Homo sapiens: one gene and its partners. The protein of the gene in region 2 interacts with the protein of the main gene of each other region in a pairwise test. Each region holds a gene or a part of one and is shown on either strand. Other genes may lie near its edges. The genes, in order: NID2, SKIL, TSKU, HEYL, GOLGB1, ZMYM5 and ZMYM2.

What was found.
Region 1: the proteins of SKIL (region 2) and NID2 interact in a two-hybrid assay, tested with the Homo sapiens proteins (one large-scale study listed by BioGRID and IntAct).
Region 3: the proteins of SKIL (region 2) and TSKU interact in a two-hybrid assay, tested with the Homo sapiens proteins (one large-scale study listed by BioGRID and IntAct).
Region 4: the proteins of SKIL (region 2) and HEYL interact in a two-hybrid assay, tested with the Homo sapiens proteins (one large-scale study listed by BioGRID and IntAct).
Region 5: the proteins of SKIL (region 2) and GOLGB1 interact in a two-hybrid assay, tested with the Homo sapiens proteins (one large-scale study listed by BioGRID and IntAct).
Region 6: the proteins of SKIL (region 2) and ZMYM5 interact in a two-hybrid assay, tested with the Homo sapiens proteins (one large-scale study listed by IntAct).
Region 7: the proteins of SKIL (region 2) and ZMYM2 interact in a two-hybrid assay, tested with the Homo sapiens proteins (one large-scale study listed by BioGRID and IntAct).

The regions. Positions count from the first base shown.
Region 1 is NC_000014.9:52,013,560-52,017,059, reverse strand, and holds part of NID2 (nidogen-2 precursor), read left to right. Parts: intron 1-1,784; coding exon 1,785-2,006; intron 2,007-2,603; coding exon 2,604-2,773; intron 2,774-3,500.
Region 2 is NC_000003.12:170,381,715-170,385,214, forward strand, and holds part of SKIL (ski-like protein), read left to right. Parts: intron 1-2,818; coding exon 2,819-3,051; intron 3,052-3,500. UniProt on the Homo sapiens protein: May have regulatory role in cell division or differentiation in response to extracellular signals.
Region 3 is NC_000011.10:76,786,356-76,789,855, reverse strand, and holds part of TSKU (tsukushi isoform b precursor), read right to left. Parts: intron 1-3,500. UniProt on the Homo sapiens protein: Contributes to various developmental events and other processes such as wound healing and cholesterol homeostasis through its interactions with multiple signaling pathways.
Region 4 is NC_000001.11:39,626,290-39,629,643, forward strand, and holds part of HEYL (hairy/enhancer-of-split related with YRPW motif-like protein), read right to left. Parts: intron 892-3,354; coding exon 218-891; 3' UTR 1-217. UniProt on the Homo sapiens protein: Downstream effector of Notch signaling which may be required for cardiovascular development. Transcriptional repressor which binds preferentially to the canonical E box sequence 5'-CACGTG-3'.
Region 5 is NC_000003.12:121,662,742-121,666,241, reverse strand, and holds the end of GOLGB1 (golgin subfamily B member 1), read left to right. Parts: intron 1-1,210; coding exon 1,211-1,316; intron 1,317-1,627; coding exon 1,628-1,762; 3' UTR 1,763-3,041; downstream 3,042-3,500. UniProt on the Homo sapiens protein: May participate in forming intercisternal cross-bridges of the Golgi complex.
Region 6 is NC_000013.11:19,846,650-19,850,149, forward strand, and holds part of ZMYM5 (zinc finger MYM-type protein 5), read right to left. Parts: intron 1-3,500. UniProt on the Homo sapiens protein: Functions as a transcriptional regulator.
Region 7 is NC_000013.11:20,084,227-20,087,726, forward strand, and holds part of ZMYM2 (zinc finger MYM-type protein 2), read left to right. Parts: intron 1-1,595; coding exon 1,596-1,788; 3' UTR 1,789-3,500. UniProt on the Homo sapiens protein: Involved in the negative regulation of transcription.

The DNA of each region.
Region 1 (3,500 bases), on a different chromosome or scaffold from region 2:
CTGTGTTCCTTGAGACACATTTGGCTGAAGAAGTCAGAGTCTTACCTTCTCCACGGGGTCTTAAAAAGAGCTTTGTCTCCCATGGGTCATGAGCTACAGTGACAACTTAACGGCATTCGCTTCCCCCAATTCTGGTGAGTCGTGCAGTTGAGCTAGAGCTAGTTGGGTTTGAGCTCTGACAACTTCATTCGCAGTCTTTTGTGTTCCAAGAGGAATTGTAGGTGCTGGAACCTGATCATAATGCTCCCAGCTTTGTTCTTTAGAGTCACTGGAGGGTTTTGAACGGAGTGACATGAAATGCCTTTATGTTTAAAATGGGCCATTCTGGCTGCTGCTAATTGAATTTACACTGGTTTTGGAGAGAGTGAGGGCATAGAAGGGTGGAAGCAGGAAAACCAGTGGGAAGGCTGTTGCAGAAATTGCAGGGAGAGGATGAGGCTTTTTGACCAGGGTGAGGGGGTGCAGTAGTGAGAAGTAAAGATATTCTAAGTGGATTCTGAAGTTACCCCTAAAAAGAGTTTTTGACATATCAAATGTGGATGGTGAGAGAAAGGAGGGTCAAGGATAATTAGGTCTGAGCAGTGGAAAAATGGAGGTGCCATTTACTCATATGGGAAAGACCAGGGGAGCAGCTGGTTTGATGGTGAAGGCAGGGGCTCAGTTTCTATTAGTTTCTGATTTCTATTATACATCTAAATGGTGGTAGCAAGTAGGGTTATTGGCTATGTGATTCTGCAGACCATGTGCTTTAAGTTGCAGGAATTAAAAAGGAAGGAGAAGCACCTCCTCTTGTTTAAGTTCCTTTGGGTAGTCCTAACATAAATGAACAAGTTATCTCAATAACCTTCTGCAGCAGAGTCTTCTCAGAACAACCTGTATTTTGGACAAAGCCTCAATGGCACTGTGGAAGCAGCCTGGGAGGAAACTGCTTTGCAACCAAAGCCAGCAGGACTTCAACCATGGAGTGAGCTGTGAGGGAGGGGACAAGAGGAGAGGATGCTGGAGAAAGGGGGGGAAAGGGCAACACGGCAGGAAGCTAGAGCCTGCAGGAAAAGATTCAGCTTTGAGATAATCCCAGGCGCAGGGTGGCTAAAGCAATTCTGGAAACTGGGCTGTGGAAGAACCATTTTTAAGCTGTTTGCCACCACCTCTGCTATGCTTTACTACTAATTCCACTCAGTTTTACCTTTACTCCATGTAGTTTTCCAGTGGGTAGACAGAGGGCACCGTGGCGCTGGGCTTTCAGTAATACTTTCTAAGACACACACTGGCCAGTCGCAAGATGGCCCTCTCCTCAGCAGCTTCGAGCTTGAAGCTTGAAGCAAGTGGGGAATGAATACAAATTGGCTTTAAGCATCACCTCGGCTACTGAGTCCCCAAGGATCACCTGCACAAGTGCTCTGTCAGCAGAGGCGCCCGAGGTACAGGCAGGATGGGCCTTGTGGGCCTCTCCTGGCCAGAAGGAGATCATGCCCCTTCCCAGGCTGAGTGAGCTGCACTGCTGATCTTACCTCCTCTTGTTCTTTCTTGATGTGGCTGGGCCTTGATGACAGACCCTCCTGGCAAGAAAGAAGCATCACATGATCTATTTCTGATTCCCATGGTGGAGAAGTACTTAGAACACATTTGCTTCCCAAGTTTGGTGTCCACGGGCTTGGCTGAGACCTGGACAGTAGGAGAAGGAAGGCCAGGAGGCCAGGCATGGGGTCTTGAGCTACATTTTGCATTCTGTCCTTGACTCACAATCAAAGGTTTTTCTTCTTCCCTCTTCCCCATCTGCTCAGAGCCCACCCAGAGGCCCCCGACCATCTGTGAGCGCTGGAGGGAAAACCTGCTGGAGCACTACGGTGGCACCCCCCGGGATGACCAGTACGTGCCCCAGTGCGATGACCTGGGCCACTTCATCCCCCTGCAGTGCCACGGAAAGAGCGACTTCTGCTGGTGTGTGGACAAAGATGGCAGAGAGGTGCAGGGCACCCGCTCCCAGCCAGGCACCACCCCTGCGTGTAAGCACCTGGCCGCCCCCGCTCCCCTCAGCTGTATCTAAGGCCTTTGCTAGGGATGGTGCCTGCTGTGGTGAAGTGGGGGGACATGTGGGGTCACCAGGTCTAATGAAAGAAGTCACTATGTGCTATGTTGATTTATAATCTGGTCCACACAAGATCCCAATTTGCGTTTGGTGTCTGGTTTTTGTCATTAGCAGCTTCCATAATTGGAACATCTGCAACTCGGTTCAGCAGGCAGTTACTCCCCCTCCCCAGCCCAGGGTGACAGGGGACACGTGTCACTCTGGAGTCCTAAAAGGAAGCTGACACAATGCTGGCTCTGTTTTTTTTTTCTCTTGAAAAAAAAATCTGTTCTGCTTTGTTCTGAGGGAAGTGTTTTGCTGTCTTCTTCCCTAGTAAATGGCAGATTTACATAATTGATCCTTAAAAAAACCCTAGAAATTAGAATTTCTTTTGAAGAACATCTGGAGCACATCTGCGTAGGGCGAAGAACTTTTGATATTTTTGGAGGCTCTGGTATGTGGTAAAGTAACTTTTCTTCCCATCTCCCTGCCTGCCCTTGTTCCCCTTCCTGCTCTCCCACCCTCTCTCCCACAGGTATACCCACCGTCGCTCCACCCATGGTCCGGCCCACGCCCCGGCCAGATGTGACCCCTCCATCTGTGGGCACCTTCCTGCTCTATACTCAGGGCCAGCAGATTGGCTACTTACCCCTCAATGGCACCAGGCTTCAGAAGGATGCAGCTAAGACCCTGCTGTCTCTGCATGTAAAGTGGATTTCTCCTGTAGGGGGCAGGGCTGCGTGGCTTTCCCAGTGGGAGCCACCTCACAGGCCCTGTTGCAGTGAGGTGGACTGGTGCAGGGAAGTCCTGGAGGGTTTCTGAGCTGCAGCCCATCGGCATGGGCCCGATGCCACCACCATAGGACCAGGGCTCTCTCTTGCTGGGAGTCACCTGTCACTGACCAAGGCTGTGCTCTCTGGTTCGTTCATGGAGTTTCAGATAATATGGAAAGGGAACTTTAGAGTTGTCAGCACATGGAGGCTGTATGGTGATCCAAGGGAAAATGGACCGACTCTTACCCTAAGTCCCCAGGGTTGTATGTCATAACATCTCCATGGAAATCCTGGAAATCAAAGTGACAGGACAACTAGTCACAAGGTGTGATCTCTGCGGTTTGTTGGGGACTCCAAGTGGAAGTCAGTTAATGACTGTCTCACCGTTGCAGCCCTTCCCTTTCACTTTGGTTCTGTCCCTTTGACCCACTTCTTTCCTAACCTTCCCTGACTCCATAGATGAAAACTTGAGGAGTGTGTGATGCTGGGAGAGGAGTGGATGGAGCCTTCCCCAGGGGATGTTTGATGCTTCCTGAGCCAGCAGCCTCCCTAATGCAAGGCACCCCATTTTGGGGAGCGGGTTTTCTCAAAAATGGAGGAAAAAAAAGGGTGGCTGTCTCGAATGGCATCGACACAGTGGAAAATCATCTGATTCCATT
Region 2 (3,500 bases):
GAGCCACTGTGCCTGACCACGAATTTATTTCTTTATTTTCAGGCTTTCTTGTTAATCATAGATTATCTTTGAAAATTCAAAATTAGGCTGGGCGCGGTGGCTCATGCCTGTAATCCCAGCACTTTGGGAGGCCGAGGTGGGTGGATCATGAGGTCAGGAGATCGAGACCATCCTGGCTAACACAGTGAAACCCTGTCTCTACTAAAAATGCAAAAAAATTAGCCGGGCCTGGTGGCGGGCACCTGTAGTCCCAGCTACTCGGGAGGCTGAGGCAGGAGAATTGCTTGAACCTGGGAGGCAGAGCTTGCAGTGAGCCGAGATCGCGTCATTGCACTCCAGCCTAGGCGACAGAGCAAAACTGTCTCAAAAAAAAAGAAAAAAAGAAAATTCAAAATTATTTTTAAATAAGTACATTGGTATTTAATGTATTTTTTGTTTCTATTTATCATTATAGGGAAATGGTAGGTGAATTGTATTGTTACTCTTATTAGAAAAAATTTCAAAGAAAGAATCTGAAATGAAATGAATTGTAAATTGCACTGAATATTTGAAATAACCTTTACTATGTGTTTCTATGTGTTTTCTAGAAATAGGTCATTTTCTTTTTGCCCTCAAGTAAAAAATGGAAGTTCTCCTTTAATTTCTTACTTTTCTTCAAGAGGTAAACAAACTCTTCAAGAATTTGGTGTGCAACTTTGATTTTTTTTTTTTTTTTTTTGAGACAAAGTCTCACTGTGTTACCCAGACTGGAGTGCAGTGGCAGGATCTTGGCTCACTGCAACCTCTGCCTCCCAGGTTCAAGCAGTTCTCTTGTCATGGCATCCTGTAGCTGAGCCTGAGCGCCAGCTGTCACTCCTGGCTAATTTTTTTGTATTTTTAGTAGAGATGGGGTTTCACCATGTTGGCCAGGCTGGTTTTGAACCTCAGGTGATCTGCCAGCCTTGGCCTCCCAAAGTGCTGCTAGGATTACAGGTGTGAGCCACCGCCCCGAGCCGCAACTTCAATTTTTTTTTTTTTTTTTTGAGATGGAGTCTCGCTCTGTTGCCCAGGCTGGAGTGCAATGGTATGATCTCGGCTCACTGCAACCTCCGCCTCCCGGGTTCAAGCATTTCTCCTGCCTCAGCCTCCTGAGTAGCTGGGATTACAGGCATCCGCTGCTACGCCCAGCTAATTTTTGTATTTTTAGAAGAGACGAGGTTTCACCATGTTGGCCAGGCTGGTCTCGAACTCCTGACCTCAAGTGACCCACCTGCCATCAGCCTCCCAAAGTGCTGGGATTACAGGTATGAGTCACTGCACCCGGCCTGCAACTTTGATATTTTAAAAAGAAATTCTTTTGAAACTAAGAGCTTTCTTAATAACCGTACTTCTCAAAATCAGAGTTTTACTGTTTCAATAAATGTTCACCCTAGATTGTAAGTTTTTTGTTGTTGAGCCCTAGATTTTTTTCTACTAGTGTAAATCTGTATTCCCTCCAAGTATGGTGATAAGGGGACTGAGTCTTATTTACATTTGTACAATCACTACTTTACCTGTTGTATTTGCAGTAAGTCTTTTGAGCCCTATTAAACCTGTCAATTTTCTTGTCCTGTCAGAAAACTGAGATTTTGGCTCAAAAATGGATGTTATTAACAAAGGGGAACAATATAGATGTCTTAGTACAAAGAAAATGAAATGTAAGAGGAGATTGTCTGGAGTTCAGGGGATAGAGTGTCAAGTCTTAAATGGTTACATCTTTTTGCTAAGTGTTACTCAGAATATAGTTACAAATATGGTACTTAAATATCTAGCTGAAATTTGTTTGTCCCATGAGCTTCTCACATGAGTCTACTGGGCAATTTTATGTGAGTTTTGGTCAAAATTGGTAATCTCTTTTATCTTAGTTTTGCATAATTTATTGTTGCCATTTTATCAAATGAGTAGGAAGTAGTGAAGTATTTCAAGAAGATTGCTCAGTGGGGTTTGATACAAGAACTGCCCAGTAGCTGGGCGACATTCAGAGCTCTCTCTCTGAGGTATATAAGAAGAGCCCTGGGAGCTCCTCACTGAGCCTCCTGTGAGTCAGGACATAGCCTTGCAGTCTGCCACTGAAGCAGCCTCACCAAAGCAAAGATTCCCTGCTTTGGAAGGGTGGTGGGCAAGATAAAGTCCTCCAAAGTAGTTATAGATTATTCTTTTTCTGGAGTAAAACTTACCTGCTCAGAGTTGTTACACAGCTGTATAAAGTCCTTAATGCTTTTAATTCTCAGGTGGTTTTGAGGGAAGGAGAAGAGCCTGTGATTTTCCTTCTGTGTATCTTTTTAGTGCTTAGAAATTACTTGCCAAAAAAAAAAAAAAACACGAAATTACTTGCAAGCTGGTTATGGTTGCTTATGCCTGTAATCCTAGTGCTTTGGGAGTTGGAGGTGGGAGGGTATCACTTGAGCCCAGGAGTTCAAGACCAACTTGGCAGCATAGCAAGACCCTATCTCTAAAAAAAAATGGGTATGTGTGGTCCCAGCTACCTGGGATGCTGAGGCAGGAAGATTGCTTGAACCCAGGAGTTAGAGGTTACAGTGAGCCATGATCATACCACTACGCTCCAGCCTGGGTTACTTGCAAACTAACAAAAAATCCCTTATAATTTTGTTTGTAATGCCTAAAGTGTTGATTTTTTTCCTAAGAATTCTTTACTGTGACCTTTATTTTCTGAGTTGTAATATTGTCTGTTTTGGTTAGAAAAAAAAAAGTTTAACCACAGAAATGCATGTTACATATTTGATTTTTACTTAATTGTAATATGTAATATATGTCTTGTTTTGCTTTTACTTGTTTTCAGCTACTACTTATACATGTGTGATAAAGTGGTTGCCCCAAATGTGTCACTTACTTCTGCTGTATCCCAGTCTAAAGAGCTCACAAAGACAGAGGCAAGTAAGTCCATATCAAGACAGTCAGAGAAGGCTCACAGTAGTGGTAAACTTCAAAAAACAGTGTCTTATCCAGATGTCTCACTTGAGGAACAGGAGAAAATGGATTTAAAAACAAGTAGAGAATTATGTAGCCGTTTAGGTAAGTATTCAGAGATTATCTTTCTAAAATTAAATATCTAATGAACACATTTATTGAGCATTTTCAAACAGGCTTTTTGTTTGAGCTAAATTTTCAGATAATTGGAGCTTTTACCTTTAAAAATGCTACCCTTCAAAACTCTGGGTGATTTATTTTAATCTCAGTTGCTATACTTTTCTAGCGTGGTGATAGCTCAGGAGACTGAGATAGATACAGGCTACCTGGCCTCAGACTGCAAGTTATTTTTGTCCGAATTTTTTTCCTTTCCTACCTTTTATTTGCTGTCAGTCTTCAGGAGATCCTTGTTTTTCTTTCCTCCTTTTTTTTTCTTTTTTTGTGACAGAGTCTTTATCGCCTAGGCTGAAGTGCAGTGGTGAGATTGCGGTCACTGCAGCCTCAACCTTTGGGCTCAAGTGATCCTCCCACCTCACCCTCCCTAGTAGCTGGGA
Region 3 (3,500 bases), on a different chromosome or scaffold from region 2:
CTTGGTTTTCTTATCTGTGTAACAGTATTCACACTGCCTCCCTCTGGGACCCGTACTCTACCCCCAGGAAAAAGAGAAATGAAGACTGGTAGCCACCAAAGAAGGCTGAGGGAGAAAGGGATCTTTCAGTCAAGATTCAACATTTTTTTCCAAATCTTGACCTGCAGATACAAGATATCCACTGATTGACCAGATTATAAAACACAAGAACAGGAGGACAAGGGCTTAGAAACCACATCCATCTGTGATTTGGGGGATATACCGTAAGGCCTTCCAGTGCAGGGGCCATGAATCATGCATTGTTGGGCCCACAGGGCCAGGTCCACAGTGACTCTAAGTTTGCTGATGGCCTGCAAGGACAAAGAGTAAATGGTACGGCCCCAACAGGCTCCAGGCAGGTCTCCCCAGGTGACACCGCACACACTGCTATGAGACACCTCTAAAACAGCTTTGGCCACATCACTCTCCTTATCAGAAACCTCTTGGGTTCTGCTTTTTACCTACAGAAATCAAGTTCTCCCATGCACGAGGCACCTGTAAGTTGTCACCACCTTCTTCTCCCCTCCCACCTGTCCCCAGCCCCTCATCTGGATTTGAACCCTCCTTGACAGCCAAAGTGGGAACAGCCTTCCCTTGATGGACTTTGAACAACTCTCAGCCTCTGCTAATACATCTCCAAACTTGGAGAATTCCAGGGCTTGGGAGCTGGAAGGCCCCTTGGGGATCATGGGCAACTGGGGCCCAGAGAGGGGCAGTGACAGCAAGGAATGGCAGAGCAGGGCCCAGGACCTGGGACCTGATGCCTCATGTGACTGCCAGAACTGCATGCATCCATCCCGCCTGCCCCTGGCCTGCTCCCAGCAAAACAAAGCCTGTTCTGTCCACTCAGGCCCTCGGGCCACCCCTCCCTCCTGGCCTCTCACCCCACAGGCTACCCACAGGCCTCCTTCAGTAAATTCTCTGCCGTGAGTTACCTGCTGTTTTCCTACTTGATGTGTAAGCAGCTTGGGGCGGTGCCCTGCCTACTTTACCTGTGTGTTCTTTCCCCCACCTGGGATCAGAGCCAGGCCTAGAGGGTGTGTGGAGGAAGAGCAGGATGAACGGGTCAACCGCAAGACCCAGACCAGGTGTGAACCTAGCTCTGTACCTACCAGCCTTGGGTAAGTCTTGGGACCCGCTCCGAGGGTCCTCAACAGGGCTAAGAACACAGGTTTGTTGAAAGGATTAAATGACAGAATGGCAGGCATTCCACTCACTATCTGCTACACAAATACTCAATGTGTGGTAGACAATGACGGTGATTTGCTAAGCCTTCTGAAGGCAGTCACCATGTGATCCTTCATGTTCCTCCCCACCCAAGTTCCCAGTGTGGCGCCAGGAGCACAGCAGGTCCGAGACTGGCTGTGATGACATTCTTCAGTCACTTCCCTGGTGTCTGCTGATAAGGACAGCTCTCTGGGTGTTGGGTTCCAGCTTGAACCTACCTGGCCCCAGCTGCCTGACCCTGGTGCTGCACTACAGCATCTCTGGTCTGTAAAGTTTTCCAGCTCCCCCCACCGCCCTCGACAACTTCCACAGGGCACTGTTGGCACAGGGCCCCACTGGTACAGGGCCCCAGCACCCCCGAGACCGGCCTTTGTCTCGATCAGCTGTTCCTCAACACAGAGCTGCCTCCCACCCTGCTCCCCTCAGTCATGAGTTCACTCAAGCTGATGCCGAGGAAATCCCCAGGTGGATGGTTCAGAAACGTCCTGCCCTCCAACCACTTTGTCAGCTCTGGAAACGCAAGGCAGAAAGAATTTCAAGGCCAGACTCCCGGAGCCCTGAGGGCCAGCTCTTGCAACAGACCCACCAATGCAGCACATCTGGACAAACACAGCAGCCCACCATGTGCTCTCCACCAGCATCTCACTTCTGCCTCACCAGAGCCTTGACCCTGGGGATACTGTCCCTATTTTGCAGACACAGAAATGGATGTTACTCAGCTGGGAAGGAGAGGACCCCGGACTTAACCCCAGATGTCTTAGCTCCAAATCCACTCTGCCTCAGCTTACAAATGAGCACATGTGCTTAGACCTGGTCATGCTGAACTGTACTTACATGTTTAACTGTCTATCCTACTGTGGGCAGGGATGCGATTAGGTTCCTTTTTATGCCCTTGAAGCTGAGCACTGAGCCTGGTACAGAGCAGACACCACGTGAAGATGCACCAAGCATCTAGAATACCGCTACCTCACCAAAGGACACCTCTCAACCTCTCCCATGCTTCCTCAACTACCATCTGTTCAGTCACCCTGCAGGATCAGCAGGTTAGATGGCGTCATATCTACTTTACAGCTGTGTTAAGAAGTCCAGAGAGGTTCTGTGATCTGTCCAGAGTCACACAGCCAGAGAGGACAGGGGCTGGACCCAGGACCCAGGTATTCTGACATCCAGTACCTGGCCTCCTCCATGACATGATCGCAGGGACCTGTAAGCCTAGCAACTTACCCAAGGAGGATAATCTACAGGGAGATGGGCAAGGCTCCCAGTAAGATTTTCTCCTTTCAATATGTCTTCTTCTTGAAGATTTTCAAGTTCCCATCAACCTGAGGCAGCGTACATGGACACATGAGGAGGCGCTATGGGGCAGAGGGCAAGGGTTTTGTAGCCAGGCAGTCTGGGTTCCAACCCAACAGGGCCTTCACTGCTCTGAGGCTTGCTCGTGCCCTCACCCCTCTGAGTCCTCGTCTGTAATATGGTGATAATCCCAGTGCTGGTCCTAACGGGTCACTGTGATGATTACATGAGGCAAAGTGAAGACCCAGACCTGGCCTGGCACATGTTGGTATTCACTGAATGTTGGTTCCTGTCCCCAGTGAGTGATTTCAGGGACCAGGGAAGAAAAAGGTGCTGTGACACCAGCAAATCCTGAGGGAAGGCAGGGGCTGAAGATGGAGAAGAATCCACAATTCATCCCAGAGGCCTTGGATCCTCTCTCCACATACCATCCAGGATCCCAGTGTGGCTACAAGATGCTGACAAGGCACTCCCAGGAGACTGGGAAGGGTGAGCTGGAAAGGTCTCAGAGACCAAAGCAGGCAAAAGCTGCTGTGTTGCCTGTGACAGAATGAGGGCTCAGCATCAAATTCGCAGATCCCCCTGGGCAGTTGGGGTCACTGTCTTCCCTTTCCCTCATCCCTAAGCTGGGCAGTCACCTCCCCCTGTCCAGGTCAGGCTCAAGAGACCTGCTGCAACAGCCTCGCTCCTGGCCTGACTCCAACTGCCAGCCATGCTGGCACCAGAACGCACTTCCCAACAGAAGTCTGGGACCCTACTACAGCTCCCTCTTTAAAACCCATCCCACAGAGACAGCTTTCTAGTCTAGAGGCCTGTGACTCTTCTAGAGCCACCTGCCTTTTTGCACACGTTGTTCCCTCTGATGCAAAGATACCCTTCTTTGTCTACCAGCAAACTCTCACACATTTCATTCAAAAAGCCACCTCCTCTGTGAGGCTTTC
Region 4 (3,354 bases), on a different chromosome or scaffold from region 2:
TGAGACCAGAACAGCTCCAGGAGAGCTGGGTGGATAAGCTGGGATAACAGTGAGAAGGAGAGATGGGTTGGAGGAGGAGGGGGCCTCTGATGGCTGGAGAACGTGCCTTCACATATGAGCCAGTCCATGAAGCAAAGCAGAAAAGGCAGTGCCCTTTTTTGGGCTCCTGGTAAAAGAACCTTCCTTATTCCTTGGGGCGGGGTGGTGAAGGGGCAGCTCAGAAAGCCCCGATTTCAGTGATTTCAGAGACCCAGGAGTGGTAGAGCATGGCTCCCGCTGGCCTCCCAGCTGGCCCTGGGGAGGATGAGTTGGGGGTGGGAACAGCCACGTAAGCAGCCGACCCTGTAGGACCAGGGGGTGTTGGGGAGGAAGACTGCAGGAGGGGAGCGATGTGGCTGCTCCTGGCAGCCCTGCTGCTGGGGGCGACAGGCACAGGGGTCGCTGGCCTCTCTAGGGGGCGGGCCCTCCGGGTGGAAGATGCCCCTCGACTGGGCAGCACATTCCTCCGGGCTGGCAGGATGATGCCTGTGGCTCTGCGAAGGGGAGCGGTTCGGAGGGCTGGGATGGGGTAAGCAGGAGAGGAGACACCGGGGAGGACAGGGCTGGGCACTCTTCCCAGGATGGCGAGCTGGTTGCTCAGGGCTGGCAGCCCTGGACAGCTATGGAAGAAAGACCAGGGCCAGGCAGGGAAGGCCAAAGGGCCAGTGGGCGTGGGCGAAGGCTCCATCTCGGCTGCGTAGCTGTTGAGGTGGGAGAGAAGGCGAATCCGGACGGGGTCTGCACGGCTGCTGGGCCCTTCAAGGACCCCCAGGTACCTGATGACCTCAGTGAGGCACTCCCGAAAACCAATGCTCCGGAAGTCAACTGCCAGGGCTCGGGCATCAAAGAATCCTGCAAAGGGAGGCGTGATGAAGGTCATGCCAGGTGTGGGGAGAAGCATGGAGCCTGGGTCTGACTGTCTGAGTTCTGGACCTGCCTCCTCCACTCACTCCCTGGGCAGCCGTGGCCATGTCATCCTGCCTCTCTGAGCCTGTCTCCCCATCTGCAAAGTGAGAACAAAAATCCCTTCCTGGGGTGGAGGATGATGGGTTATAATGATCAATGAATTCACTAAACTATGAAGCATTATAAAATGTAAAATATTGCTTTCATCACAATTCATGATTAATGCAAAGAAAAAACTTTGTGGCCAAGATAACTTCATTGAAGTAGATACTTGACAGATATGAAAGGTTATGCACTTGGAGGTGTAGAACAACTCTGCCTGCTGAGAGGGGCAGATGCCCAGGAAGGGAGGTGGCGGCAGCAGCCATCAGAGTGAGGAGGCCCCTTGGAGAAGGCAGCGTAGTGTAGCAGTGAAGTGTGAGGTCGTCGGAAGCCAGGAGAGCTGGGTTCAAATCCTGGCTCTGCTACTTAACTAGCTGCCTGATTGTGGACAAGTCTCTTTATCTCTCTGTGCCTCAATTTCCTTAGCTGTAAAATGGGGATATAGCAGTGCCTACCGTATAGAGTTATGAGGGTGAAATTAAAATAGTGCACAGAAAATGCTGAATAAATGAAAAGTTAGCTATCACTTATATTACTGGCTTGGCCTTGTTGGCATCTGAGTTTGTCCCTTGGCTCAAAAGGCAATCTGGAAAGCAAGACCCCACTGTGATCCTCAGCTGCTGTTATCGGCCAGGGACCCTCTCTTTGATGGATAACCAGGTGAACTTCCTGTACAAATATTCACATCCTCACTGCCTCTCCATACCTGTTCCTCTCTTGACCACCTTCTGGGCAAAGACACAACAACCCCAGCCAGCACTGGTCTCATGACGATGGCAGCAAATATCTAGTCCTTGGTTCATGGCCCCCACAGAGGAACAGCTCAGCTGGAGACTATGTTTGGAGTCAGGTCAACTTGTGGGTGAGAACCAAATCTGCTATACACTTAGCCATGTAAGTTCAAGCAAATCCCTTCACCTTTCTGCGTTTGCTGTTCTTTTTTTCTTTTTTTATTTTTTTTGAGATGGAGTCTCGCTCTGTCCCCCAGGCTGGAGTGCAGTGGCACGATCTTGGCTCACTGAAATCTCCGCCTCCCAGGTTCAAGAGATTCTCCTGCCTTAGCCTCCAAAGTAGCTGGGATTACAGGCAACAGCCATCACAGCGACTAATTTTTGTATTTTTAGTAGAGACAGGGTTTCACCATGTTGGCCAGGTTGGTCTCGAACTCCTGACCTCAGGTGATCCGCCCACCTCGGCCTCCCAAAGTGTTGGGATTACAGGTGTGAGCCACTGCGCCTGGCCTTTGCTGTTCTTTTCTTTTTCTTTTTCTTTTATTTTTGAGACGGAGTCTCGCTCTGTCGCCCAGGCTAGAGTGCAGTGGTGCGATCTCGACTCACTGAAAGCTCCGCCTTCTGGGTTCATGCCATTCTCCTGCCTCAGCCTCCCGAGTAGCTGGGACTACAGGCGCCCACCACCACACCCGGCTGATTTCTTTTTTTGTATTTTTAGTAGAGATGGGGTTTCACCGTGTTAGCCAGGATGGTCTCGATCTCCTGACCTTGTGATCCGCCTGTTTCGGCCTCCTAAAGTGCTGGGACTACAGGCGTGAGCCACCGCGCCCGGCCCGCTGTTTTTTTCTAACATTTGCTGAATTCTTACTAAGCATTTCATCAAGTTATCTAATTTAATCCTCATAAAACCCTCTAATTATTCCCATTTTAGAGATGAGGAAACTGAGGAGGGGAGAGGTTAAATCATTTGTCTAAGGTCATACGGCTAGTAACCAGTAGAGCCCGATTCAAATCTAAAGCCTATACCGTGAACCACAGTTCTGTCTTCCCATTAGTTCACAGTCAGAAAATGGTGGTAACACTAACCCCCATCTTGCAGGTTCTTGTGAGAATCAAATGAAACAACACAAGTGAAAGCATTTTAAAACTGTCAAATGATATCCACATATTAGTCACTACTTTTCTTTTCACTGGATAACCATAAATGTAATTTGAATCTCCCCCATTGGTTCATTAGAGATGGAAGTCTCCACTCTTAGCAATGCATTTTTTTTGGCAGAAGTTCCCAAATGGACCACCTGCACCAGGATAATTGGGTGGCTTGTTAAACTTGCAAACTCCTAAACTTCAATCTAGACCTACTGCCTCAGAATCTCTGGGGGATGACTCCTGATTCTGCCTGCCCCAAGGTGACAATGGTATACACTGAGGCTTCAGAAGCACCAGAATGGGCCACTTAAAATGCTACTGTCCTCTTCTGTAGCAGTAAGTTAGGTCTCTGGAACTTAGGTCTTTGTGGCCAAGGCCTGTGGAGCTTTCAAGGTTTCCCAATTTTGAAATCACCAAATACACAGAG
Region 5 (3,500 bases), about 49 Mb from region 2:
AAGGGCTGCCTGCCTAGTCCAGGTACTGCCATTGTAATGTTAGAATCTCACATGTACTCTAAAGAGCAGGTGGAACTCAGTGGCCCTCCAGTTTAAAGGCAGCCAGTACCATCTTCCTCATCAATACCTACAGACTTCTCATCCTTCCTCAGCATAGCCTACATTGACAGACTGACCTCCATAGTAACAGACCATGCTGTTCCAGATCAAAGCTGCTTCTGAAAAGCTTATCACATGGAGGAATAGACACAGAAGGTGTATTTTTTAGTCAGCCTGGCTCTCAGGAGGGAAGCAGGAAAGAAGGAGCTAGGCTGTGCATGCTCAGTTCTCTTTCTAGACTCACAAATTGGATTAAGGTGTTTCTTCTCTCCCGGGGAAAAGAATGTGTCCTGCAGAGAGCCCAAGAATATTAAACTAATAGATATCCTTTCAGAAGGAGAAAACACAAAGAGTAGAGGCAAGAGTTTCATCCTCTCTTCCCTATTGAAAAAGTTCATCCCTATAGGCAAATGCTTGATCAAACGTGCTGTGTTACATGCAGCTCCTTTGTTTGTTTGACATAACCATTGAGTGAGTAATGGCAGCTTCTTCATTAAATGGAGAAGTTCCAGTATTAAATAAGCAAATCAGCAAAAACTGAGCCAGAAGGCAGTGGAGACTGCCAATTCAATTTAATTTTTTTTAGTTCAATTTAATTTTTAAAACCCCACAGAAATCTTCTTTGGATGCTTTTGCCTATTAGCCTTTAATAAAAGAAAAAAATGTAATGAGTTTCTCCAAGTCAGGTGTGGTGTGGTGGAAAAAAGAACGTGAGGCTTGAAAGACAAAGTTGGGTATTGAATTCTGGCTCTGCCGCTTACTGGCTGTGCCGCCATGGGCAAGTAATTTAACCTCTGTAAGCCTTAGCACTTTGAAGATAATAAGACCAACCTCAGAACCTGAGGATTAAATGTATGTAAAGCACCCAGCCTAGAGCCTGATACATAGTGAGTAGGCAGTCAATTCCTGATAGTTATTGTCACATTTTGCTGCTGCTGAAGGAAACGTATCTGCTGGTACCCCCCTTGCATGGGTTTGGGTTTATGGGAGCAGCTTTTGCTGCAAGTCTCCTCCTGTGCTGCATTGTGTGGCAGGATGACTGGGAAGACTGGGCCTGATCAGCCTCTCATGCTATGAACCAATGCTATGCCTCTTTTTTTTCTCAACTCAGGTTAGAGCACAGTGAATGGGACTCTTCCCGGACTCCTATCATTGGCTCCTGTGGCACTCAGGAGCAGGCACTGTTAATAGATCTTACAAGCAACAGTTGTCGAAGGGTAAGAGGAAGAAGGATAAAGAGAGGGTGTTTTATTATCTGACAGGGCTGGCTATACTGGGGGCAAGGAGCTGAGGAGAAGGAATGTGGAAGTCCAGCCACTGAGCAGCGAATGAGTCTAAGGCTGGAAGGGCGTGGAAGATTAGAACCTGGTGGAATTTGCCAAGTTGTTGACTCTGAGGCAACTTTCCTCTCAGAATACCCCTTTCTACAGTGGTTGGGTCAGCTTTGCTTAAGTGCAAGACTAGTAGGAGGGAAAGCAACATAGCCCTATAGGGTGAAAACTCTCTGACTTTCACATTTTTCTTTCAGACCCGGAGTGGCGTTGGATGGAAGCGAGTCCTGCGTTCACTCTGTCATTCACGGACCCGAGTGCCACTTCTAGCAGCCATCTACTTTCTAATGATTCATGTCCTGCTCATTCTGTGTTTTACGGGCCATCTATAGACTTAGTTGTTACTCTTTGGACCACTCCCCTCAAAACTTGGAATTCTCTCACCTCTAACATCAGAACATCAATTCCAGTGGAACAGTCTTCCCATTTACAGGTCTTCTCTCCAACTCTTCACGGAAAGTGCCTGCAAAAACAGAGGTGGATACGAGGACAGGTTGGAGCTGCAGGGACTGGCGAGTCTGCTTTCTTCTACTGCCCTGAGCCTGAACGCTTCTGCTTAATCTGAGAATCACATTTGGTTTGTTGAGCCTAATATTTGTTGAGATTTTGCAGGACCCTGATCTTTTGTGGTCCTGTAAAAGATACTGAGGAATGTCTTTCAGCCAAGCCAAGAGGATGGTTTCAATAAACCTAATAATCTGAAGTTCAGTATCATTTTGATTGATAACTTTCTTTGCCTTGTTTGCCTGTATTTTCTCCTGTTTCAGGGGGAAGGTGGCTCTGCCATAAACAGAGTTCAGGGAAATGAACATGTCACCTCATAGGACATCTGATTTAGGTCTCTTGCAGAATAGGGTGGTGAAAGCTGAAGGAACTCCCTAGGGGTTTTAGCTGTTAGATCACATGGGAGGACAGCATCTTCTTCCCTGCCAATTTCAGATATAATTGGAGGGAGAATTTCAGGTCTTAGACTATAAGGATAGAATCCCTTTGCTTTTGCCCTTGATCACATGTATACTAAGGTATTAAGTGGCCCAAGTCTTTCCTTTCACCAAAGGGCAGGGAGAAGTGTCTATGGACAGCAGGGTTCCAATTCTTGTCATTCCAGGAATATCTGAATATTCCTGGAATGTGGACCCTGAGACAGTGCTCAGGGGCCACTGGGAGCCAATATTAGGCATTGACTCTCAGCCAGGAGTCTGACTGGTCTAACACCACACTGCAACTCCTGACCTCTTGAAGTACTAAGCTACTTTGCTGTTAGTGACAGTTATTACAGTTTCTCAGCCCCATTGTCTCTGCCCTCTGTGGCAATGGAAGGAGAATATAGAGAAGACAAAATTAAATATAGATAGACCTGAGAAGGACAGCCAGGATAGAATTCCATTTGTGCCTATTCCCTGCCTCCCCTCCCCTCCCCCATCCTACCAGTTGGTTATTTTCTCATTGCATACGTGATGTGTTCACTGCCTAGCCTCTCCCTAAAGAAGAGAGAAGACAAGTGGGCTGACTGATCTGCTCTAAATCTACTGTGGTGATTAAATCTTGGTTACAACATCCTGGGAAGTTTCCTGAACAACTGTAAAATAATAAAATTATTTTCAGAATGAAGAGTTTGTGTGTATGTGTGTGTACGTGTGAGTGAATGGATATGTGCACAGGTGTTTCGGTACCTGTGTTTGCATGCTGGGGGGTGGAAGGTGGGTAAGGGAAGTAGGGAAAGGAGGTAGCCAGGAATGGTTATAGGGGTAGAAAGCTCTACATATTCAGGCTTTCTTCTCACTGGCCAATATCAGTGACAGCTGCATGCATTTTTCCAGCCTTAGCTGCTAGACCCCAGGTGATGAATGCAGTGAGGAAATTCTATCCTAATACTGAACCAAATAAGCTGGGCCTTAGGGCATGAAATTGATGCAGGTCCATGCATGGTCCTGGGAGAACTCTTGTCTGGCACATAGTGAAAACATTAGGCCCCTAGGGATCCCTCTGGGTGGGAATGGGAGAAGAGAAGCTTAATAGCATGTAGCAGGTTAGATAGGCATTATTATGTTTTGTTTTGTTTTGTTGGGT
Region 6 (3,500 bases), on a different chromosome or scaffold from region 2:
TCCAAATAACCAATGCACAATGTTATTAATACAAAGGTTAAAAATCCATTCAAAATCAATAGATTTTAAACTAATAGACCAGTCTGTACCAAATACAGTCCCCCCCTTTTTTTTAAGGAAAAAAAAAACTAGCAGGGTGTTATGGCATGCACTTGTAGTCTCAGCTACTTAGGAGGCTGAGGTGGGAGGATAACTTGAGCCCAGAAGTTTGAGGCTGCAGTGAGCTATGATCATGGCACTGCACTCTAGTCTGGGAAACAGAGTGGGATGCTGACACATAAAAAAATTAAAAATAAACAGTATGAAAAAAATTTTTTTGAGACAGTCTCGCTCTGCTGCCCAGGCTGGAGTGCAATGGCATGATCTCAACTCACTGCAACCTAGGCCTCCCAGGTTCAAGTGATTCTTGTGTCTCAGCCTCCCCAGTAGCTAGGACTACAGGCATGCACAACCACACCCAGCTAATTTTTTGCATTTTTAATAGAGATGGGGTTTTGTCATGTTGGCCAGGCTGGTCTCGAACTCCCAGCCTCAAGTGATCCGCCTGCCTTGGCCTCAAAAAGTGCTGGGATTATAGGCATGAGCCACTGCGCCTGGTGATGAAAACTTAATTATACGGTTACAAATCCCACATTGTAACAACCTCGAAAACTACTAATTGTCAAGTTTTGGTGCTGCATCAAAAGAAAACTATCCACATCTAAAAAGACGTGGAAAATAGTCCTCCCTTCTCCAACCACCTATCTATGTGAGGCCAGATTTTCTTCTTATACTTCAAGCAAAACAAAATACTACAACAGACTCAATACAGAAATACATATGAGAAGCCAGATATACCTGTCTTCTATTAAGCCAGATTTTAAAGAGATTTGCAAAAATGTAAGACAATGTTACTTTTCACTAAATTTCTTTGAAAATAGTTATTTTTCATTACAAATGTTATTTATGTTATATAATGGGTAATTATTGTGAAATGAATAGTTTTAATTTTTCTTTTTTTTTTTTTTCTGTGAGATGGAGTCTCACTCTGTCGCCCATGCTGGAGTGCAGTGGCGTGATCTTGGCTCACTGCAACCTCCCGGGTTCAGGTCATTCTCCTGCCTCAGCCTCCCGAGTAGCTGGGACTACAGGCACCTGCCACCATGCCCGGCTAATTTTTTTTTTTTTTTTTTTTTTTTGTATTTTTAGTAGAGACGGGTTTCACTGTGTTAGCCAGAATGGTCTCGATCTCCTGACCTCGTGATCCGCCCACCTCGGCCTCCCAAAGTGCTGGGATTACAGGCGTGAGCCACTGCGCCCGGACTAGTTTTAATTTTTCTTAAGATTTTATCTTATTTTTTGAAACAAAAAAATTTCTGTCGCCCAGGCTGGAGTGCAGTGGCATGATCTCAGCTCACTGCAACCTCAGCATCCTGAGATCAAGCAATTCTCATGCCTCAGCCTCCCAAGTAGCTGTGACTGCAGGAGCATGCCACCATACCCAGCTAATTTTTTTTTGTTGTTTTTTGTATTTTTGTAAGAGACGGGGTTTCACCATGTTGGCCAGGCTGGTCTTGAACTCCTGACCTCAGGTGATCCGACAGCCTTGGCCTCTGAAAATGCTAGGATTACAGGTGAGAGCCACCACACCCAGGTAATTATTATTTTTTGAGACCGGGTCTCACTCTATTACCCAGGATGGAGTGTAGTGTTGTGATCATGGCTCACTGTAGCCTCAAACTCCTCGGCTCAAGTGATCCTCCTGCCTCAGCCTACGAAAAGTGCTGCAATTACAGATGTGAGCTACTACGTCCATCCATTATTATTATTTTTTAAAGACATTAGGTCTTGCTATGTTGCCCAGACTGGACTCAAACTCCTGGGCTCAGGTGACCCTCCCACCTCAGCCTCTTTGTTTTTTTTTGAGACAAGTCTCACTTTGTCGCCCAGGCTGGAGTGCAGTGGAGTGATCTGGGCTCACTGCAACCTCTGCCTCCCAGGTTCAAGTGATTTTCCTGCCTCAGCCTCCTGAGTAACTGGGGCTACAGGTACATGCCACCATGCCTGGCTACTTTTTAATTTTTTTAGTAGAGATGGGGTTTCACCACGTTGGCCAGGGTGGTCTCAAAATCCTGACTTCAAGTGATCCACCTGCCTTGGCCTCCCAAAGTGCTGGGATTACAGGTGTAAGCCACCATGCCCAGCCCCACCTCAGCCTCTTGAATAGCTGGGACTACAGGTGCACGCCACTATACCTGGCTAAAGCTTTAATTTTTAATATATCTAATAATAGAAATAAAAGAAACCTTTGGGGTCTTCATTTTAAGAGTGAATCTGAGACCAAAAAAATTGAGAATAAGTACCCTATGGAAAAAATAAAAAATGTAAACATACGTATTTATTGTAGCTTCAAAACAATGAAAAAGCATGTAAATGATGAAAAAAATACATAGGGGAATGAGTACTTCAGACAAATATTTTGTGGTTACTAAAACTTATATATACATATTTTTAGAGACAGAGTCCCACTCTGTTGCCTAGGCTGGAGTGCAGCGGTAGGATTAAAGCGCAATGTGACCCCAAACTCCAGGTCTCAACTGACCCATCGCAGCTTCCTTAAGTGCTGAGTTTACAGGTGCACATCATGGCGCCTGGCTAATTTTTTTTTACTTTTTATAGAGATGAGGTCTTCGCTACGTTACTGAGGCTGGGTTCAAACTCCTGGCCTCAAGTGATCCTTCTTCCTTGGCCTCACAAAGCGATGACATTACAGGGGTGTGCCACTGCACCCAGCCTATATTTTTATGATGACATAAAATATTAGCATTTAGATTAAGTAAATCAGCAGGATACAAAACAATATAAAAAGTGCTCTAAATTATATTTTTAAAAACCAAAGATTGAAAGCAAACAAACCAAATTCTTCACAGTGGTCACATTATTTCTAGTTACTGGGGTAAGGAGACATATTTTCTGATTTCTATGATTTTTTTCTAAATATTCTATAATAATCACATAGTATTTCGTAACCAGAAGATAAAATTAATTTTAAAAATAAGGAAAAAAGTTGGCCGGGCGCGGTGGCTCAGGCCTGTAATCCCAGCACTTTGGGAGGCTGAGGCGGGTGAATCACTTGAGGTCAGGAGTTTGAGACCAGCCTGGCCAACATAGTGAAACCCCATCTCTACTAAGAATACAAAAAATTAGCTAGGCGTGATGGCACACGCCTGCAATCCCAGCTACTCGGAAGGCTGAGGCCCGGGGATCACTTGAACCCAGGAGGCAGAGGTTGCAGTGAGCCGAGATCGTGCCACTGCATTCCAGCCTGGGTGACAGAGACTCTGTCTCAAAAAAAAAAAAGGGAAAAAGCACTATTTTCCTGAAGGCAACAACATGATTAGGTTCTCAGGTTCTCGTTACTTTTCAGTACTTTCCTAAAATTCAACAGGCTATAAACACTAAAATGGTCAAAAAAACAATACCAACTCTCCCCCAAACCCCTCACAAGTCACATAAAAGCA
Region 7 (3,500 bases), on a different chromosome or scaffold from region 2:
GGTCTTGAACTCCTGACCTCAAGCCATCCTCGTGCCTCAGCCTCCCAAAGTGCTGGAATTACAGGCATGAGCCATTGCGCCTGTCATTGTCTTTTAAATTACAGCAATTCCAATGACAGCAAAGCAAGGGACACAAACTTTTTCTTAAACGGTCAGATGGTAAATATTTTAGGCTTTTGGGCCTATGGAATCACTATTGTAACTAATCGGTTCTCTTGTGACTAGAAAGCAGCCATATACTATATATAAATTCATGGCATGTGGCTGTGTTATAATAAAACTTCACATAAGCAGGTGGCTGGCTGTAGTTTGCCAATGCCCGGTGTAAAGGTATGCTCAAAGGTAGTATAGATAGGTGGAAATGTAAGTGAAGTATTTACATTTAAGAGAAAACAGTCAAGCAGGTATGAAAAATGGAATCATGTTCTGGAATTTTTTTTCCCCTCAATCTCAGACCAACAGGCATTTTAAAAAGTTTAAGCCAATAAAACGTTTAGAGACCATAGATTATTTTATGCTTGCCTGTTGTTTTAAGTAAGCACTCTCTAATTTTCAGAAGGTCAGCATGAATTCAAAATGTACTTCCCTGTTTAAACAAATTTATAAATCACAGGTCCCCAGGATGGCCCTCAAGGACTTGTAAAAACAATAGTATCATGTATAGGATGATATTAGTACAAGTTGAATGCGCCTTATCCAAAATGCTTCTGACCAGAAGTGTTTTAGATTTCAGATTTTTTCGGATTTTGGAATATTTGCATATACATTATAAGATGTCTTAGGGCTGGGACCCAACTCTAAACATGAAATTCATTTATATTTCATATACACCTTATACATGTAGCCTGAAGATAATTTTATTTATGCATAGCCTGAAGGTGATTTTATTTTCCCCTTGGGGTTGCTGAATAACCTGTGTGTTATGTGCCTGTGTTTTGGGCGCGAACTCCTCACATGAGGTCAGGTGTGGAACTTTCCACTTTTGGTGTCATTTTGGCAAAGAGTTTCAGATTTTGGATTTTTGAATTAGGGATGCTCAGCCTGTATTTCTCACCATGGTTTAGGGTGGTCCTATTTGGCTGCAGTAGTGTCAGGGTCTTCAGTTGGTAGTAACTATTTGTTAGTAGGAAATTCCTATCTCACTATTACCTTGTTGGTATTTTAAAAATTGAGTTTCTATTATGTAGTGCTGTAAGAATTTTTTAATTTTATGTGCTGCCATACATATTTCATCAATTCTAAGACATTTTCACATTTCACTATTTCTGAAACTGGGATGCACAGTTTAAATTGTTGCATCTTGAAATCATAATTGGCAGTGTTTCACTTGCTTAATGGTAGCATTAAAATAATGAGTGGTGTGTCTATTGATAGTGTCTTGGATTTAGTGAAGTAGAATTAAAATTGTGGGAAATAATCTCTATCTCAGAAAATAACTTTGAGAATATTTTAATGACAGAATAATGGAGACAGTGGGGCATAGGGGGTCTGGTCATATAACGTGATTAATGGGGTCTGAATTATTCTTGAAAAAAGAAAAAGTTGTGGAAATTTTGTGAAATTGACTTTTTCTCTTTTTCCTCCCGCCTCCAAAGTCCACAGAATCTTAATCAGAGGATGGATGTTTTTTATTTGCAACCAGAATGCTCTAGTTCTACAGATAGCCCTGTCTGGTATACGTCTACTTCACTGGACCGAAACACCTTGGAAAATATGCTTGTACGGGTTCTTCTAGTAAAAGATATTTATGATAAAGACAATTATGAACTGGATGAAGACACAGACTAAAAAGGAACGTTGCAGAAGCAATCGGGATAAAACAGCATTAGATAGTCATGCTGCTAGATCTTTATTATGGAAAACATTTCAAGTTTACTCCTTCTGTTTTGAGTTTTGTAGCAGTGTACCCACGCTGGGTATTACCATGTAAATAATCTGTGAGTGAAAGTTGCCATTATTCTATGTAGTGGTTTTAGGATACTTAACAAATACATTCAAATTCTTTTTTTATTATTATTTATTTGATTAGGTATGTTTGTAACTTTTTACATTACAGAATATGAATGAGAATGTGCCATGTATAATTTTTTTCTTGTAGTAAGAAACATCCATATTGCACAACTCTACTGTTGCAAAGCTTCCTTGGAAGGGGGCTCTTTTACTGGGTTCTTAACCAGATGGTTGTGTATGGGTAGCACTACTAAAAGTTTAGAACTTGCAGTGTCTTTCGGAATTTTTAAAATAAACTGTAAACTAATAGGCTGGGGTTTTTGTTTTGTTTTGGGGTTTTGTTTTGTTTGGTTTTACATTTTAGTTACTGAAGCCTTACAAGGTTATGTAGAGAGATACCATCTTCTGTACCAAAAATAGACAAGAGAATGCTGTCAATATTGGTGTACTGTAATGTGAATCTATGCTGGTGAAAACAATTTTTTGTTCCCCTTATTAAAACCTTAGTGTCCTTTTCTCATTTGTGGCTTTCTGCATCACCCAATCAATAAAAAACAAATATATATATGTATATATATGTATGTATGTGTGTGTGTATATATATATATATATATATATATATAAATGATTGTAAGTTGAAAACAAGATCATCAAGACATTTCCTTTGTAAAAATGTCTGGTGAAAGTATAAAATTCTGTTTTCTTCTATGCCAGCCATAAGTATCTGAAATCCTCTTCATTTATAGAGGTTTGATTTTTATTTCTTTTTTTCCCTCTTAAGGATACAGATCATGCTGCAATGTTAGCTGTGTAGTACTCTAAAACTTAGCAATTTTATCAGAATTCTTGTGCCTGTTTACATTGGATAAAATTGTTTTTAGAAATTCCACTCCTGAAATAGTTACAGAAAGTCAAGCTATGTTAAATAAGATAGGATCACATTTTATAATGAAGATTACCAGTGTAGTAATTCTGATATTGCAAATGATTGAGGAACAAACAAAGAAACTAATAGAGAAAGTCAGTCTCAGAGGAAATCCCATTTAATGTTAGATTGTTTGGCTTTTGAAATTACTTCTTATAGAAGATTGCATTAAAAAAAAAAACAACTTTGTGCTTCTGCATAGCAATTTATCCATTCAGACCTTTTCTTTTAGAATAAGGAAACTTAAAATCTACTTTCTAAAGACTGAACAAAGTGCTAGCTGCAAATTATCTTGAAATCATTTGGCTCTTTTCTAGCATGTGTGTAATCATGTTTTCTTCTGATTCCTGAATGACCATGGTAGCATTAGTGTTTAGAAATTGTTCAGGGGAAAATTGAGCTATTTTCCATAGTGGCTAGCAATTGCTACACATCCTTAGATACTCCTCTCTCCCATAGGATAAATGTTACAGCACACAAAAGAAATTTTCTCAATTCTGATTTGGAAAATTTCACAGGTGTCATTATTGTATATCTAAGCAATAATTATCTGAATGTTTTGGCATAAAAAATTATAATGTTCTAACTTGTTTTATAAGTTGAATGACTTTTCAGTCCCTTGATT